Regions from separate parts of the Homo sapiens genome. Here region 2 is linked to region 1. The links come from fine-mapping of genetic effects on plasma protein levels. Region 1 holds a variant in brackets. A gene starts in the other region. All regions are shown on one strand. Distances are between the middles of the regions.

Evidence for each region. PIP is the posterior inclusion probability: the model's chance that the variant is causal. Protein levels are from antibody-based Olink assays in UK Biobank. Linkage for the fine-mapping came from a reference panel and not from the study's own genotypes, which makes the PIPs less certain.
Region 2: PODXL starts here. The variant in region 1 is fine-mapped to the plasma level of the PODXL protein (UK Biobank, PIP 0.91).

What each region holds. Positions count from the first base shown.
Region 1 is chr7:7,234,502-7,243,299 of GRCh38, reverse strand. It overlaps C1GALT1 (core 1 synthase, glycoprotein-N-acetylgalactosamine 3-beta-galactosyltransferase 1), which reads right to left. Exons shown (of 4, transcript NM_020156.5): 2 at 8,761-8,798; 3 at 4,378-5,045. Among named protein-coding and RNA genes, the nearest start is that of LINC03016, 16 kb to the left of the region's middle. The variant C/A (reference allele first, on the strand shown) is at 8,347.
Region 2 is chr7:131,554,502-131,565,140 of GRCh38, reverse strand. It overlaps PODXL (podocalyxin like), which reads left to right and starts at 8,513. Exons shown (of 9, transcript NM_001018111.3): 1 at 8,513-8,881. The coding sequence starts at 8,782. RefSeq lists an enhancer at 7,578-8,125 and silencers at 8,093-8,212, 8,243-8,302, 8,383-8,892.

The DNA of each region.
Region 1 (8,798 bases):
GTGGAAAGTATTTTTAAATGAAACAATATTCTCTCACACTCTTTAGCGGATAAAATTACTGAGATTTCTTCAAATCAAAGGAGCAGCTATACAAGGAGAAATCTCCTTCTCCAACATCTGCTTTCTCTTCCTCATTTTCTCACTGTAATTTTTTGTGTGGCTCATACTCGGAAACATACCTCTAGGGCATTCAATGACTACAAAGCCTTGCCCATTAGGTGTCTACAACCCAATACACTTCATCTATATATGTATCAACCCAAACAGTACAGTATTTGAGACAAAGCTCTCAACCTAGACTTGGGTTTGAACCCAAATTTTGTGGGCTAGTATACGACCTTGAGTAAGTTATTTAATCTCTATAAGCTTTAATTTCCACATTTGTAAAAGGTGGTTATTTAAAGGAGACAATGTGTGTAAATTACCCTTTGCTTAAAATAAATGCCCAATAAATGTTAGCTATTATTGACTGAAAAATCATATCAGGTGGCCCTAAGGTAGGTCAGATTTAAACCTTTGTCCAGTTATGTAATTCTCATAAATTCCTAATAGGGTTGGTATGAGAACAAAGTTTAAAATAAAACAACAACAATACAACGAACAAGAAAGCAAGAAAATTAAGAAGACAGAAAAAGAGATGAATTAAGCAGTCAACCTAGAGTCAGAATTGGTATCTGGAGAATGTTGGTGTCATCCAGGTGACTCCAACAAAACTTCAGGCTCCATCTGACATCTTTGTAAAGAATGAGGGAGATAGTCTGGCAAGTTCCAAGAGAAGATTCATATTGACTGAATATTTAATAAATCTAATAATTTATGTTTGGAAGTATGTAGCTTACAGTGTGTAAAAATTATCAAACTGTCCACTGCGTTTTCTCTGCTGTTATCTCTAAACTTTCCTTTGAAACACACACTGGATATGTAGATTCTTAGACAACCTACTCTTGCACCTTTAGGAAATATCAGAATAAAAGCAAATAGGAAAAATAACCAGATAAGTCAACTTGTGATTATCTAAACTAGCTCTGTCCAACAGATATGTAAGCCATATAGTAGCCACATAAAAAATGTAAAAAAAAAAAAAAAAAAGTGAAATTTCATTTTATTTAACTGAAAAAGTTCATCATACTGTTTTAACATGCAATAGTTTTGCGATGATTAATGAAACCTTTCTTGAAATTAGGTGTGTATTTTATTTACAGCATATCTCAATTTGGACTAGCCACATTTCAAGTGCTCAATAACCACACATACTTAGTGGCTACTATACTGTCCAGTGCATATTAAACTTAAGGACTAGACCAGTAATAGTTATAAATTGCTGACCTCTGGAAGCAATTTTTATATTCTGTAAAATAATATTTTTGATAAGATTTACTGCATTAATTATATTGCTCTTATTTATTTATATTTTACTGGATGGCCAGGATTCTGTTAAGCATTTATGCAATAAAAGACAATAAAAGTAAAAAGCTATAATTATTAGAAAACAAGAGCTAGCAGACAATTATGGTTACCCAAAAAAACTCAAGAATCTCAAGTGAAGAATCATCAGAAATAGAGAATTCAGTTACAAAGCCAGATTTTAAAGATGCTTAAAAAGAAAATCAAACAAATAAGTTTTCATATATATCAGTAAAAAGTTAAGTCTTTAAAAGCCCAAGTAGAACAGTAACAAAAATATTGCATACCTATGGAAATAGTTTATAAAACTTGACCAAAGGACCTAAAAGGTGACTTACAAAAAATCCTGGGCAAAGATGTTATTGTCCCTAAATTAATGAGTTTGTATGCAAAGATAAAGAAATGAGTTGCCAAAACACTTAGAAAAAAAGAAGAGTTAATTTGCCCTTAGAATAGTAACTTAAAACTGCTGTAAAGCTACAAGGTTCAAAACAATATGGTGCTGGGCCAAAATCAAATGAGAACAATGGCATAGAAATGAAATCCCAGATTTAGATCCTACTATAAGTAAGGTTACAGTGTATGATAAGGGGGACATTTTAAATCAGTAATGAGTTAAAAAATGGTAGTAGAATAATTAGTTAACAATTTAAAAAAATCAGGAGCTCTCTACCTCACTTATGTACTAATATGTTTCAGATAGAATAATGTAAATAAAACTGAATAAAGTAGATCATATTTGACCATTTCTGACCTACAGAAAAGTCAATTTTTCATGTAGAGAGATATATATGTAAACAATTACACATATATTTTAAATCTACCATATTAAGACTCACTGCAACTTCTCTGGTGAAAAGTCTATTACTAAGAAGGTGGAGTGGGAAGGGAACTGCTTAAGAGTCAGTTCTGAACAAGAAATTTAGGAATGTAACTCTTTCATGAATTAGAATATCTTTTACCCTGACTTGCTAGATAAAAATTTTCTGTATTTTCAGTAATTAGTATATAGAAAAAAAAAGTATGTATAAGATTTAAACTCATTTAGGGGGAAGAAAACTTACTAAATGATAGATGGATAATAATAGAATTTTAGTTTCACGTTGGGTTTATGTAAGAATCTCCTGAGGGAGAACAGGCAATGTCAGATTGATGGGTCAATTTTGGTACTCTGAATTCTAATTCTGTTTTATGGTCTTCAACATAATTTGATAAATTTCTAGAGAAAGAACAAATTTGCCAATTATGATGTCCCTTTGCTACTACTGTATGTGTATCCAACATCAGATACTCTTAGTAAGATCTTATATGCATTTGGATGTATTTGCTACATGTTTATATTCTTGAATTTGGGTAAATTTTTTATATGGGAAAAGGATACAGAATTAAGGAAAAAAGATCAAGTCATCTTGGAATGGTCAAAATATATTAAGAAAAGTTTACATCAAAAAAGCATCCAAAGTAGTACTCTCACTAAAATAGAAAAACAGACTATCAAAAGTTTCCTTTTAAAGCTGATTACCTAAAGCTTGGGTCAGATGTTCTAGGCCAGGGTCTCTGAACCATGGTACTACTGACATTTTGGGCTAGAGTAATTCTTTGTTGTAGGAGGCTGTCCTGTGCATTTTAGGATGTTTAGCATTTAGTAGGTTTATAATGTAGTGGGTTTCTACCCATTAGATGCCAGTAGCAGCCTCCTAGCTGTAACAACCAAAAATGTCTCCAGACCTTGCCAAATGTCCTCTGGGGGCAAAATTGCCCTGGGTTGAGAATCACTGTTCCAGATGATGATTTGAAAGCATTGCCTTATGAAGATGACAGTAGTAGCATGAAGTGTATTATTTATACGTTAGGTCCACAGAAAAGAAGGCATAGAGAACTAGTGACTTGCCTAAAGGCATTATTAGTAACAGAACTGAGCCTAAAAGCTAGGTTCCATGATTCCTGGTCTCATTCAGTTATTCACTGAAGCAATGCTTATAATAGTGAACACAGCAGACATGTAATTAACATTGATAAATCTCAATGTTGTGTGAAAAGGGCAAGTTGTAGAAAGATATTTATTTAAAAATCTGAAAAACAATACTATAGCATTTTCTTCTTTAAATAACTGAAACAAATGTGGCAAAAAGATTAATATTTGGTAAAGACAGGGGATAAGTACAATGTATATTCTGAAATATTTGTACTACTGGAATACTTCCTAAAATAATGCACTTTAGATAAAATTCTCAGGAATGTGAGCCAAGGCTTATTAAATGCTTACTGTGTGAAGGGCTGTACTATGTTGTAATTACAACAACTAAATAAGACAGGTACATTATGTCCATCTTACAAATGAGGAAACTGAAGCTCAGATGTCATCCAAGGCTCCTGTCCATCCAAGGTTGTTCGGCTATTAAGTGAGAGAGCAGGATTTGACTCTAGGTCTTTCTGAACCTCCATTAAATCCTCCTGATGACTAGAAGGCTCTTTACCCAGATCTTCACCCAACTTGCTCTCTAATAACACTCAGGGTTCTGCTCAAAAGTCACCTCTTTGAGAGGCCTTCTTAATCACCCAAACCAGAGGACTCCATCCCACTCTGGGTCACTCTCCATCCCCTTACTTGGCTTATTTTTCTTCAGGGCACTTACTACTAAAATCCTATTTTATATTTACAAGTCTGCCTGTTTACTGTATATCTCCTCATCCAGAATGTAAGGTTCACGAGAACTGGAAATTGGCTGTGATTTACTTCTACATTCTCAGTGCCTGGCATATAACAGCATCAATAGCTATTTGCTAAGTGACTACTGCTGATTGCTGATGTCCCTGTTCTCATCTATTTTGTTATACTGCCACTCTATTTAAAAAGACTAAGGAAGAGTCCTTGTTGTTGGTACTAAAGAAACATACACATATTAACATGTTTTTATCAACAAAATTCAGTCAGTCCAAGTATTGACATAGTAATAAAATTTCTAAACTTACCTCTACAGGAGGATAATAGTTGTAATTCCAGTACCAAAACGTTCTAGGTAGATAACCTTTAATTAAATGGTGTTCTGGCACAAAGGGATGAAAAGTTTCTTTTCCAATGGTATCTCTGGAATCTCCTGCTTCTACATTCATAATTTCCATGCATCTCCCCAGTGCTAAGTCTTCAATGGAGGAACTATGTGTACACTTGTCTGTTTTAAATGCATCAACAAATCTTTTCAAGGCTTCTTTGCTTAGTACATATCCTGCTCCTCCACTCATGTAGCCCTGCTTTACATAAGGCTTAAATCTTCTCCCAAAGTAAATGGGTTCTTCAGGGTCGTATTTTGAAAGAAGCCACCTCAAATTGTCTAGTATGACATACGTGTCATCATCTGCTTTCAAAAACCAATCAGCATCTTCTAAATAATGTTCATGAACATACTGAAAAGCTTTAATTGTTTTCCAGTATAGTTGATCTCTGCCTTCTTTGGTTTTCAGTCCCACAGCAGGGAAGTCTTTATTTTCTTCTGAACTCATAAACAACACTTTGTTACAACGCTGGGCCCAAGTAGCTTTGACGTGTTTGGCCTTTTTCTCTAGGTTTTGAGGGCCGGTCATAACCCAGCAAAGAATTCTAACTTTCTGATAGAGGTTTTCAGCAATGTCTGTGTTCTCATCTATTAAACAAAACATTTTAAAAGGTTATTTACATAGATGTAAAATCCAAATATTAATAAATTATACTGAAGAAAGCACTGTCCTAATTTCAAAGTCCCTATTTATCCCTCTATTAGTGATTTAGCCAAAGGAAAGCAAACTCATCCTAATGTGAACTGACACTCTGATTTATTGGTTTCATGTCAGTGTTATCTAGGACATCACTGGAGCTAGTAAGAGTTGACATTATAATCTAAATTCGTCTCAAACTGTAGTTTACTGATTAAAAGCAGCAGCATCACCTGGGAGCCTGTTAGAAATGCATAATCTTAGGCCCAGACCTACTGACTCAGAATCAGCATTTTAATAAGTTCTCCTGGTGCTTCATAGGCATGCTAAATGCTGCCTTAAATAGTCTCTGCTTGGCACTTCATAAAAGAAAGCAGCCAGTTTTTAATAGATTACTGACAGAAATTTCTCACTGCTCTGAACGAGTTTCTGAAGAGCAGGAAAGACATGCTGCTGAAGTGGCAGTTCATTTTTGAAGTTCACAATAATCCACTATTAAGAATTTCTACAAGTACCCTGAGGTGGTAAAAGGTCAAAGCACAGGAGTTGAGATTACTTTCTGATAGTCACATACCTCATTCCAAAATGTAAATCCACCAATCAAAAACAGAAGAGAACAATGGTAGACATGGGAATTCCAAGATGGTCTAGAGCAGTGCTCTTTAAACTACAGGTTTGCAAAGAAATAAGGAGCTTATACCAGAACAGAAAGCAACACATTACTTTGAAAAAGGCCTACTATCAGAACCAACCAATCAAAATGTCCACTTAACTAAGCAGTGAGCTTAAAACTGAAACTTAAAACTGTCCATTTAAGTAAGCAGTGAGCGTAAAACTGATTTACATCCTAGTGTAACCTCATTATCTTGTGCAGACAAACAGCTGACAAAGTGTCAGGCCAGGACCGCATTTTGAGTAGCACCGGTACAGAGGAAGAGCTCAATGATGAGATTCTAGATGAGTACTTCCCAAGCTATCTGTGGTGAAAGGCCAATTTTTATTTCTAAAAGAGGTCTACACTGTGTAAATAGGATAAAAATGAATTATAAGAAAAATAAAACTAAAATATAAAACAAGTCCTAAATTTTTATTTTTAGCTTCAGACAAAATTACTCCAATTACAATAAAAGTTTCTGCTTACTCCCAAATAAGCAGACATTCTTTAGTTATAGGACCAGAATGAGTCTATGAACTGACTTTCAGTAGCAATGTTCTGGGCAGTATCCTGACGAAGCATATGCTTAAAATTAAGGTCAAACAGCAAGTTACAGAAGCTTAGTCCTATGAGAAATTAACAATGGAGGCATATAATATACTAGTTAACCAACTGAGAGGGAATAATGGGAAAAGCTGGGTGGAACATAAAAATATTCTCATGTCCCAGCTGGGCACAGTGGCTCAGGCCTGTAATCCCAGCACTTTGGGAGGCTGAGGCGGGTAGATCACGAGGTCAGGAGTTCGAGACCAGCCTGGCCAACATGGTGAAACCCTGTCTCTACTAAAAAAGATACAAAAAATTAGCCAAGCGTAGTGGTGGGCGCCTGTAATCCCAGCTACTCGGGAGGCTAAGGCAGGAGAATTGCTTGAACCCGGGAGGCGGAGGTTGCAGTGAGCCGAGATCCCACCACTGCAGTCCAGCCTGGGTGACAGAGCGAGACTCCATCTCAAAAAAAATAAAAAATAAAAATTCTCATGTCCCTCTGAGTATCAAGATTCACAATCCAAAAGGACAACAGCAGACAAAATCACCCTACTTTCAGTCAGAAAGCATAGACATCTCATATCCTTGAGGAGCCCAATCTCTTGGCTATACAAATATACCAAACCTTGAATGGATAGAACAGTGAATGCAGGAATCCCCAATCTGTTTCATTCAGGTAAGACAGGTTTGTCCACCGCTGAACTTGATAAATAATTTTTCATTCACTAATTGCTTTGTACTGGGCATGGGCTGGCATAGGAGATGAAAAAAATGAGTAAGACACATTTCCTGCTGCAGAGGAATTCAGTCCATTCAGGGAGCCTGAGCCTGACACACAAACCAATAATTGCTAAATACTAAGAGATGTTATTATAGAGGTATGAACAAAGGATTCAATGTGCTGAAGGAAAATAGTGGCTAATAAATCCTACAGAGCAGTAGATAGGGACCTAGGTAGAACAAAGAGGAAGATTAAAAAATAAAGACATAATACAGAAAATAGGTTATAAGTTCACCAAAAGGAATGGTGAAGTTTGGTTGAGTGCAGGTACATGGGTATAGCTGAAGGCCTGAATCGGAAATGCACTGAGGACTGAGAGGAAAAGAGATGAAAAATGGTAAAGTAGCAGCACTGTTAGAATGTACTGACAAATCGAATTGGCTAGCATGTGAAGGCAAGCACCTACCATGATTTCTTAATTTCTGGCACAGACAGATGGTAATGAGCCATATAAAAGAAAGAATAGAGGAGGAAGAGCAACTTCTAGGAGTAGGAAGGAAAAGGAGACTCAATTTACACATGCTGAGTCTGAAGGGAGTAGACAAACTTTTAGCATACCCCACATTTTGTAGGCCACTGAGCTGGACAAGTATGTATCTAATACACATGCCTGCAGTGAGGCCTCGTACGGCTTACTATTAGTAGGGAACTCTGCCTCCAATTGATCACCTAAAGACATGTGGCTATGCTACAGAGCAAATACACAGTGACCAAACTGTTCTGTAGGAACACAGAGCACTTGCTCAGAGCTGAATTACTGTTACATAAACAATCACAAAACACGACATACTTTGTAATAGTATGTTTATGTTTGCTAGTTGATAAAATGGAACCAGGCTTTGAAATCTCACCATTCAACCTCTGCTTGAGAGGTGGTGAAGAAATAATTTACTACTGAGAAGAGAAGAGAAAAAACTGAATAGTGGACCCTCTGCATCCCAGAATTCCAATTGTTTTCAAGCTACTTATATTATTTTCTGTCAAACCGTATTTTGCATTGTGTTAATGTCACCTCACAATGTCTGGAACTGGGCTAAAGACAGTAAGAAATAGAAGGAAATTAAAATTATGCGGGTTAATGATGTCACACAGACAAACAGCTAAAGGACAGAAACTTGGAGAGAACCAACACTTAAGGGACACATAAATAACTCAACTGAGAAAATCTGGTTAGAGGTAGGAGGCTAGGAGAAAATGAAGTCTTTAGAACGCATCCTTGGTTTTTAACTTCCTTGTTCTTTGTGCCTCTTGAGGAAAAAAAAGATTAGTT[C/A]TATTAACTAATTATAAAAATATAAATCGAAACTTACATACACCTCAAGTTTCTCTAGGAAAACAAGACTTAAGCAAAAGCTATGACCAAAACAAGTAACAAAAACCAAAGACACACATATAACAAAACTGAACCTAGAAAAACATTTTCAGAAACAAATCAAATCTGAATAGTTATGCCCTTCCCCAAATCATGGGTTCTGAACTATTTCTACTTAAAAACGAATTCAAAATTAATATCTTATTCCCTAAATAAATCTGAGTTTTAGCAATTCCCTTCTCTTGAGGCAAACCAAGAATTATTTTTAATATCTGGAATATATAGCCCATTTTAATTAACAGATACAGACAGGAATATGACAAAATTTAGACTAAAATACTGCTTATGTTTACTGCTTAATAAAGTAAACCATACCTTTATGTTGGCTAGAATCTGCATTGAAGTTCATTTGT
Region 2 (10,639 bases), 120 Mb before region 1:
ATCCAGCCTCAGGTACTTCTTTATAGCAATGTGTTAAAGCAAACTAAACATGGCCTGAGAAGGACTATATTTGAGTCCTTGTGGATAAACTGTAACCTAGCTTAACAGGCAGACAAAATTGAAAACCTAACTTAGGAGTATGTGCCTGTAACAGTAGCCAAGTCTTGGCCAATCCCAGCGGCCATACTTCAACCATTCATCTAATGTTGAGTGTACAAACTGTGTTCAAATAAGGCAAACACACCAAGCTGTAACCAATCCAGCTGTTCTGTACCTCGCCTCCAATTTCTATACGTCATTTCCCTTTTTTTGTCTATAAATCCTCTTCCACCACGTGACTGCACTAGAGTCTCTGTGAATCTGCTGTGATTCTGGGGGCTGCCCAATTTGCAAATCGGTCATTGCTCAATCAAACTCCTTTAAATTTAATTCAGCTGAAGTTTTTCTTTATCTATCTATCTATCTATCTATCTATCTATCTATCTATCTATATACATATATATATATATATATTTTTTTTTTTTGAGATGGAGTCTCACCCTGTCACCCAGGCTGGAGTGCAGTGGTGTGATCTCGGCTCACTGCAACCTCTGCCTCCTGGGTTCAAGCGATTCTCCTGCCTCAGCCTCCTCAGTAGCTGGGACTACAGGCACCTGCCACCACGCCCAGCTAATTTTTGTATTTTTTAGTAGAGATGGTGTTTCACCATATTGGCCAGGCTGGTCTTGAACTCCTGACCTCAAGTGATCTGCCCATCTCGGTCTCCCAGAGTGCTGGGATTACAGGCGTGAGCCACCACGCCCAGCCTGAAGTTTTTCTTCTAGCAAATGTGAAAACAGAGTAATACACATTTCTATCTTCGGGTTATCCTAGGGAAATAAGGTTTTCATCTGCTCATCTGTAAAATGGGATCATGGTAATATATTTACCTTTCCAGATGTATGAAGATTAAATTATGTTAGGAATGTAAAGCGTTCAGCACCATGCCCAGAATACAGGCAAAATTCCATGCAGTACTATCCAAGTGCTGATTCTGGTCCTGGTCAGCCTCCGGGGTGGAGGAAGCTAACTGCATGCTGTTTTTATTGTACTGGGCAGGGGAATGGGAGGAATAGTCAGGGGCTGAGTGAGAATGGAAAGCAGCTTGGGGTGTATGGAGAAGACTGAGCCGAAGCTGATGCCTTGGGCTTCTTTTAGTTCAACATAAGTAGTAATTGACTCGTAACTCCCTCCCCCAGTTTCATCTCCATGGCACATTTTCTTTTGCACCTGCCAGGGGACCTGTGCTTTTTTGAGTTGTAAGACCAACAGCTGTGGGACACAGATGCATGCAATGGGCTGTTAGAACAGGAGCTAGAGTTCTAAGCTGGTTCTGGAACCTGCGCTGTTGACGAGTTGAGTGAATGAGGACTTCACCTCCACTCTCTAGGACTCTGCTTTCTTCCCACATTGGGTCAAGTGCTCTCTAACATCTGCTGAGCCTTCAGCTCTCTCTTAGGTGCTAGGCCTGGTCCCAAGGGCCCACGTTCAGGTAACTCCATTACATCCGAGCAGGAGGGACAACCCCAATTTTGCAACCCACAGCTCTGGCCTGCAATGGATGCAGCCATTGTGGAAAACCCTCTCTTCCTGCTGCGCCAGGGCATGACCTGCTCTTCCAACCCACGGCGAAGAGCGTCCAAAAGAAAAACGCCTGCTGAAGAGCAGGCTCCTCACCGGAGTGAATGCAGCAGGAATCACATGGGCCTTGGAGCTCTGCTGTGGACACAAAGTTTTACTTTTTAAATGTATTTATTGTGCACCAGCTAGGCATTGTGCATCCCCCCCACACACAAATTCTCACAGAGATTCTGCAAAATTGATGTTACTTATTTCATAGAGGGGAAGACTCGGGCTCACAGAAGTTAAGTAAAAGCTCAAAATCACATGGCTACTAAGTCACAAAGCAAAGATGAAGTTCTGGGCTGACTCATTCCAAGGCTATTCCTATCAACCATGACAAACTGCATCTCCATCCATACCTTCAGTGACGAAGTTCCCTTGGCCTGAGATTAGTCCTTCTATCTCTGCTTCTCACCCCATCTCTTGTAACTTCTCCCTTTCAATTATTGTCTTCCTCTTGGCCCACAGTCATGTACACATTTCCAATTTTTTTAAATTTAATTTTATTTTTTGAGACAGGGTCTCACTCTGTAACCCAGGTGGAGGTGGCACGATCTTGGTTCACTGCAACCTCTGCCTCCCAGGCTCAAGCGATCCTCTCATCTCAGCCTCCTGAATAGCTGGGACTACAGGCATGTGCCACCACACCTGGCTAATTTTTACATTTTGTGCAGAGATGAAGTTTCACCACATTGGCCAGGCTGGTCTCGAACTCCTGGGCTCAAACGATCTGCCCACCTCAGTCTCCCAAAGTGCTGGGATTACAGCCATGAGCCACCACGCCCGGCCTACACATTTCCAATTTTTAAATGAACCAATGCACACAAACTCTTCCCTTGACTCCATGTTCTCCCTCCTTCCCTTCCCATCCACACTCGCTGCCTCCATTTCCTCATCTCCATTCTCTCCCTTCAGTTACTGCACTTCACTAAAATCACCCTGGGTAAGATCCCCAAGGACCCTTTCATTGTAAACTTCAGCTGGTAGATTTCAGTCCTTGGAGCAGGTGACACTTTTGACCACCTTGTTCTTATTAAAACATTCTCCTCCCTCCGTTTCTATGGGTCCCTTCTCTTTTGGTTGACTTTCTATTCAGCAATACATTCTCCATATCCTCTTCCTATGCCCATTCCTTAATGTTGATATTTTGAAGGGCTCTGCCTTCAGCCTCTTCTCTTCTCCACTGCAGAATATTCCTGGCCCATCATCTACAGTCATGGCTACAACCCCATCTGCTTGGTTATGGTTCTCGGATCTCCATTTCCAGTCCTGACTTTAGGTCTGAGCTTTACTGTCACAGATAAAACTTCTAGGGTGGGTGTGGTGGCTCACATCTGTAATCTTAGCACTTTGAGAGGTCAAGCTGGGAGGATCACATGAGGCCAGGAGTTTGAGAGCAGCCTGGGTAACACAGCAAGACCCCATCTCTATTTATTGGGGGGCGGGGGGGAAGGAAAGAACTTCTAGACATAGCCCCTGAGTCTTGTCTTGGATATAACTTTGAGATGTGGTCATGGGTCTTCAGAGTCAACCTGTTTGAAACTGGACCCATCATTTTCTTCTCCCACATTTGCTTCTCTTCTTATATTCTCCATCACAGTTTGTTTCATTTACTCTCCCTCCAACCATGGCACTCAGATAATTCATGCAGTCCTGCCGTGTCTTTCTGCCCTCAACACACCACACACACCAGCCCACACACCATGTCCCCATCCAATGGGCCACTGAGTCCTGTATCAATGCTACCCCTCAGACACCTCTTGCATCAGGCCCTTCTCTTCTTTCCCACCACCACTGTCTGAGGGCAGGCCCTTTAGGGACAGTTGCACTAGCCTCCCCAAATGCTGTGCTCACCTTCCGCCTCACATCAGCCTGCCCTTGCTAAGCCCACTGCGGCTTTCTCTCATGAAAAGCTGGTCTTGGGGCCAGGCACGGTGGCTCACACCTGTAATCCCAGCACTTTGGGAAGCTGAGGCGGGCAGATCATGAGGTCAGGAGTTCAAGACCAGCCTGGCCTACATGGCGAAACCCCATCTCTGCTAAAAATACAAAAAAAAATTAGCCAGGCTTGGTGGCATGCGCCGGTGATCCCAGCTACTCGGGAGGCTGAGACAGGAGAATTGCTTGAACCTGGGAGGTGGAGGTTGCAGTGAGCCGAGATCGCGCCACTGCACTCCAGCCTGGTTGACAAAGCAAGGCTCTGTCTCAGAAAAAAAAACAAAAAAAAAAAAGAAAAGCTGGTCTTGCCCGTTCAAGCTAAAACCCTGTAGTGACTCTTCATTGTCTAAGCGTCTCACCTTTACCCACCTTCCAATCCTCATCTCCCATCATCCTGACAAATCCTATGCTCTGCTGAGGGCGAAATACCTGTAGATCTTGTTCCATCTGCCCAAAAAGCCTTCCCTTTCACTCTTCCCTTGGTGAAGTCCTTCAACTCCTCCAAAACCCAGTTCCCTCCTCTGGAGCCTTCCTTGACCTCCCCGGGTGGGGCTGAGCCATCCTGCTCTCCGCTTCCCACATGCCCACCCGTGCCATGTGTTACAGCCCCTACTACATGTTAGTCATGTTTGTGTACAGGGTTGCATTCTCAGCACAGTGCACCGAACCTAGCACACTCTGCCTATTAGGGTAGATATTATTGAATAATAATACATAAAGGCATGACTTTGGGGTGAGCTGCCCAACTTGAGTCCCAGCTGATATTCATAGAACCGCACCACTTGGCAGTCAGGGGTAACCCAACCTTGGAGAGAAAATCCAACCACTTCTTCATCTATGCAGCATTTGAATGTCATGCACCTGTTTGGGGTCAGACACCACCATACTGGGCACTGGATTCCAAGATGAATTAAACACTGCTTCGACCCACAAGGAACTCAGAGGTCAGTGATTAGAAAGCCCAGGTAAGAGCATCCCTGGCTCCTTATGTGTAGGAGCTGTGGCTCCAGGATGGATACATGTGTGCACTCATCTTTTCTTGGGGGATGTGGTAGCGGACGCTTTGTCTCACCCCTAGATGTTGTGACTGGGGATCAGTATTACTTAGAATGAGGGTCAAGAGGACTTACTGAGTCTGCACATAAGGATGCACTTAGGTAAACAACATCACCAAATTGCACCTGGGGCAGAGAATTATGGCCCCTAACATTGACAGCCAGGGGCCATGGAAAAATGTGTAACCTTGTGCCATGGGTTCCTGCGTAATATCTTCCAGGTGACATTCATATTTGCATTCAAGATCTGTATCTATAGATCTGTATCTGTATCTATATGTATGATGTTGTAACTGAGGGAAAGGCCCAAACTGGGCTTGCTCTGTTGATAACAAAATGTCACGTTGCTCCAGCATAAGCAATAGAAAATAGTTGGAACTCTAACAACAACCCCAAAACAATGAATTCTCCCTTGGAACTAAAAAGACTAAGAGACTTGATGGGAATCCGAATGCCAGAACTCTCTCAGAAGCCAGACGTACAATGGCTTGGAAGATGTGGGGCTAAAAGTCCGCCTCAACATACCTTTCTGTAAATGGTCAAATTTAAAGCCCTCCAATCAGATTCTGCCAAGCCAACATTCCTAAATCTTTTCATTGCCTTCTGATCCCATAAATTTACCCCAGGCCTCAAACTGGGGAGACATTTTTTCTTTTTTTTTTTTTTGAGATGGAGTCTTGCTCTGTTGCCCAGGCTGCAGTGCAGTGGTGCAATCTCAGCTCACTGCAGCCTACACCTCCCAGGTTCAAGCAATTCTCCTGCCTCAGCCTCCTGAGTAGCTAGGATTACAGACGCATGCCACCAAGCCTGGCTAATTTTTGTATTTTTAGTAGAGATGGGGTTTCACCATGTTGGCCAGGCTGGTCTCAAACTCCTGACTTCAGGTGATCTGCCCACCTCAGCCTCCCAAAGTTGTGGGATTACAGGCATGAGTCACCGTGCCTGGCTGGGGAGACAGATTTGAATTCACTCCTGTCTCTTTGCTGACCAGTTTTGCAAATAAAGCCGCTGCTTTTTCCAAAGCTAGTGCTTCATAGTATTGGCTTCTGTGCCCATGGGGCAGCAAAACCATTTGCTTGATAAAAATGCGGTGGCTCTCGCCAGTAATCCCAGCACTTTGGGAGGCCGAGGCGGGCAGATCACCTGAGGTCGGGAGTTCGAGACCAGCCTGACCAACATGGAGAAACCCCGTCTCTACTAAAAATACAAAATTAGCCGGGTGTGGTGGCAGATGCCTGTAATCCTAGCTACTTAGGAGGCTGAGGCAGGAGAATTGCTTGAACCTGGGAGGCGGAGGCAGCCTGGGCAACAGGAGCAAGACTCTGTCTCAAAAAAAAAAAAAAAAAAAAAAAAGTGATGTGCTGTTCTTGGTGGTCTGAGTAAGTAAAGGATGAATAAGAAAGACGCCATGTTAAAGAAGCTGAATGTCTGCTAGGAGAGCTAACGCATGTATACAAATAACCAAAATGCAACAAATCCCAGAAGGAATGATCCTGCAGAAACTTCCTGATGAAAAGCTTCAAAAACAGCACCCATAAAGTGCTTTGGGTTTCAAATATAAGCTCAGGTGTTCTGGGCTGGCGAGCTTGCTAGTTAGAGCACAATGCTAAATGGGGCCAAAGGCACAGGCCAGTTACCTGGGGGTAGCTCATCTCAGTGGCCACCAGTGACCTCAAAACCCAGCCAGCCTCATTCCAGAAAGCCACGTTGTGCATAAGTTGAGGGGGGCTGTTGGATACTGGGGAGAGTCCAGCACAATTGTAACTTTTCTATGTCTTCTCTAAGCCCAGATGTCTGCTCTCATTTTAATTTTGCATGATCTTGTAATGGCACCAATCCCAAATCATGTGAATTTAAAATGCCCTAAGCTTCAAAATATACGCTCTCTCTTTATAAAGTTAACATGATTGCTTCTGAGTTTTTAGATAAATTGAATGATTGAGTGCAAAAACACTGTTTAAATCAGAGTGCGATACACATTTTTTAAAATCCCAGTGTAAAAAAAAATATATATATATATTGCTTGGTTTCAGAAGAGAAACAAGCCTTTTGTTGACATGATATCAGGGGAACAGTACTAAAAAAACATCAAAGATAGTCACACACACAAATATCCCAGAGTATTCATAGGGAACACCCTCTGTCTTTCCCATATGCGGTGTGGAAAACGGGGCCAGAACGATCCTGCAGAAACTTCCTGATGAAAACAACCCCGTCAGCCCTTCCCAAGCTTGAGGCCGGCTGCCACGGAACCCCAGCCAGGGCTCCAGCGCTTCCTTCGCGGCTCCAGGGACGCAGTGCCCTGCAGGCATCGCCTGCTTGCAGCCGACTTGAGGGGCTCACGGAGTCCCCTGTGCCCGGGACGCGGCTAGATCCTGGAGAAAACCCCTCCACCCAGCCCCATCTGGCAGATAGACTCCAGATTAGCAACCCCGGAGTCACGTGAGCCAAATTTACGCCGTACCCGGGTTCCAAGGTTAATCACCCCTCGCCCCCTCCGCTTCCCGGCTCCGCCGATGTGCCTCCTCTTCAGGCGGGCCTGGGGTCTGCGTCTCCCAGGCAGCTTTGGGGGTGGAAAAAAGGAGGGGAGCGGGGGAGGGGAAAGGAACTTCTTTGTTCTTTCACCGGATAAACTCAGTTTACGGAATTCTCCAACACCCACTCCCACCCCCAGTGTGCAAATATCTCTGATCCTCACTTGGAGGGCGAACTACTTCATTCATTGAGACTTTTGTGTTCCTGGCCCTAGGCTAAGTATTATCTTGTAAGATCACATTTAAGTTTCCCAACAACCCCCTGAGGTAGGTGTTATTATCCCTATTTTACAGATAAAAAGAAATGAGGTACTGAGAATAGCTTGCCTAGGGTTTTACAATTAATAGATTGGCACAGTTAGGTTTTGAGCCCCAGCCTGTTTTGACCCAAAAGCCCTAATCTTTATAGCTGTTCTTTATATAGCAGGAATAAGAGTAATAACCACTCCTTGCAGAGCAATTACTATATTCCAGGCACGGTGCACGGTATTTCTCCAAACTTCTCTCAGAGGCAGGTTTGCCACTTACCCGTTATGTGGCCTCAGGAAGTTTCTTAACCTCTTTTTGACTCAATTGCCCTGTCTGCAAAATGAGGCTAAAAATATGGTTGTCATGAAGAGTAAAAGAATTAATATATGTAAAGCCTGGCACACATTCATCCCTGAAATTGTTGTTGCTGTTGTTTTTTAACCATCATCTCCATTTCACAGGTAAGGAACCTACCCTTGGAGAGGTGAAGGAGTGAATTAGTCCAGCTTGCCCGCTGCACACCTAGCTGCAGAGAGACCCCGCTCAGAAGCCGTGCGGGATGGGGGCCCCACAGGCAGGTGAATTGCACTTGGCAGGTGGGAGATGAGCTTCTCCGGGGTCGCTGCAGAACGCGCAGCAGCCCGGGAGGCCGTGAATGGTTATCAGTTACCACGCAAGGCTGGGGGTCCGCCCGCTCCGGATTTGCTCGTAGTGCGAGGGCCCCGGCGGTGTGCTGGGGGATCCCGCCGGGCCCACTTAGAAGCACTCGGGGGGACACACCTGTTCGGGACACCTGTGGACGGGGCCCGGCTGCACCGCAGGAGCCCCCCGCCCTGGCCCCCGCGCACACACAGCCCCCCAAGGCGCGGAGGCCGCCGGCCCTCCCGCCCGTCGCGCTCCAGGGCGGAGTTTCCTCCTCTGCTCATTGTTCACGGCCCAGCGCCCGCCCAGCCCCGGCCCCGGCCCCGCCCGGCCCGGCCGCCGCCGCTGGCGGGCTCCTGGGGGAGGGGGAGGGGCGGGGGCGGGGGCGGGGGCCGGCGCTGACGGGACGGGCCAGGAGTAGCCGCAGCCGCCAGTGGGGCCGCAGCCGCGCAGACGCCGCCCAGGACGCAGCCGCCGCCGCCGCCGCTCCTCTGCCACTGGCTCTGCGCCCCAGCCCGGCTCTGCTGCAGCGGCAGGGAGGAAGAGCCGCCGCAGCGCGACTCGGGAGCCCCGGGCCACAGCCTGGCCTCCGGAGCCACCCACAGGCCTCCCCGGGCGGCGCCCACGCTCCTACCGCCCGGACGCGCGGATCCTCCGCCGGCACCGCAGCCACCTGCTCCCGGCCCAGAGGCGACGACACGATGCGCTGCGCGCTGGCGCTCTCGGCGCTGCTGCTACTGTTGTCAACGCCGCCGCTGCTGCCGTCGTCGCCGTCGCCGTCGCCGTCGCCCTCCCAGAATGGTGAGTGGCCGGCCTGGGTTCCGCCGGGACTCCCACCGTGCCCATGTGCCCCCTGCCCGGCCGAGCTGCAGGGAAGCCCGGCGCGCCGCGTGGTCCGACCCCGAGCAGCCCTATCACCGCCGGGGTCACACACGGAGCCCTGACCTTGCACCATCCACGCCCCCTCCAAACTCCGCAGCGCGGCAGGTGCAGGGCCTGGGCGTAGATTCGTCTCCACTCTCCACTCGGGAGGAGTGGGCGGTGGATTCTGCCCGGGCAAACAGGGGCGCGCCGGTGCTAAGTGGGTTTGCATGGGAAAGAAAAGGGAGACCGCACCGCGAGGCTCCACGCTTCTGCGGGACTCTCGGGATCTGATTACACCTTTCCTTCGTGTTGGAGGGAATGAGGGGCTGTAGTGTGTATTCGTTAATTCCAGGCAAAGAGGCAGGCGAGAGGCTCCCGAGGAAGTCCCTGAAGCAGGTGACAAGCCTCCAGCCACGGCCCACGCGGGCGATGTACTTACCCGTTTGCAGAGGTTTTTTCTAAGTAATGTGTGCAGGCTCAACTCCTTGAGCCCGTGCTGGGGCAGGTACAGAGTCGTAAGTGGACCTTCCACAGTCCCAGAGTCACCTGGCTGAGTGGGGGTCCTACCTCCGTGTCCCTAAAACAATCGCTTCTTAGTGCGTGGCTACGATGGTGAGACCCCCCTCGAATCCTCTTGTTCAAACGGGAACTTGTTCAAACGGGAACTTCTCTCTCGTAGAATAGGATTGGGCTGCATTTTAGACACACCTTAGAAAATGTACCTGTCTCTCATGAAACACCTGCACCTCAGAAACATCCCCTCCCTGTTTCTTTTCAAGGTGAAATGTTACTCTTTCCCTTTTGGGGGACAGGCGATGGCTGCAAACTCAACCAGAACAGGTGTTCTTAAGCCCCTAGGGAACAGCCAGAGTCAGCTCAGCCCCACGGGAGAGGTGCATTTCTCATTCTCTTTTGCCCACCTGAGCACATGTCTGCAGGAAGAGCTGAGGTGGTGTGATCACCCTAGGGCCAGGAGGACTGCGGGGACAGCACAGACAGGGTAGGGATTCTGCTGTGAGCAGGTGCCGGCAGTTTGGGACTGGACTCTAAGGGGCCAGGGGAGATGGAAGGGCAGTACAGTCTCTCCTCTGCACCGCAGGAAACCTTTGGTAGTGGGCAGGCGCTGGCACTCAGGGAGCAGGCAGGCGTGGGCATCCTCCTGTGGCCGGCGGGAGACTCCACCAGCCTGACTAGAAAGGGAAGGTCCCGGCGGGGGGAAGAATGTGTGTCCCTGGAAGAGGGGCTGCAGTGTGAGGAACAGTCAGAACAGCTTTCAGAGTGGCAATCACTGAAGAGCCACACGACATGCAGGGTTGAGATGACACGAGAGTATGGTGGCTCCTTAGCCCTACTCTGGGGACAGCTGGACTTCAGGGTGGGCCTTCATACGAACCTTTTGTTGGGAAGCCTCTTAGAACCACCCAGAAGGGCGTTGGGCTGTGTCAGGAAAGAGGGGTTAGTCCCTAGTGCTTCTGAGCTTAAGGAAGCTGAGCCACCCTTCCTTTGAGGAGTGGGAGGCACTGTGGGACAAGACCCTCCCTGTCTGCCCTAAAAGGAAATGTTCATAAGTCACCAGTGGGCAAAGCTCTGACTCCAGCTCACTGCTGGCTTCAAGGATGGCACTGTTTTTCCTGGCACCTGGGCACTGCCAGAAACCATGTCTCTTCCATGAAGCACCACTTCTGGCCTAACACA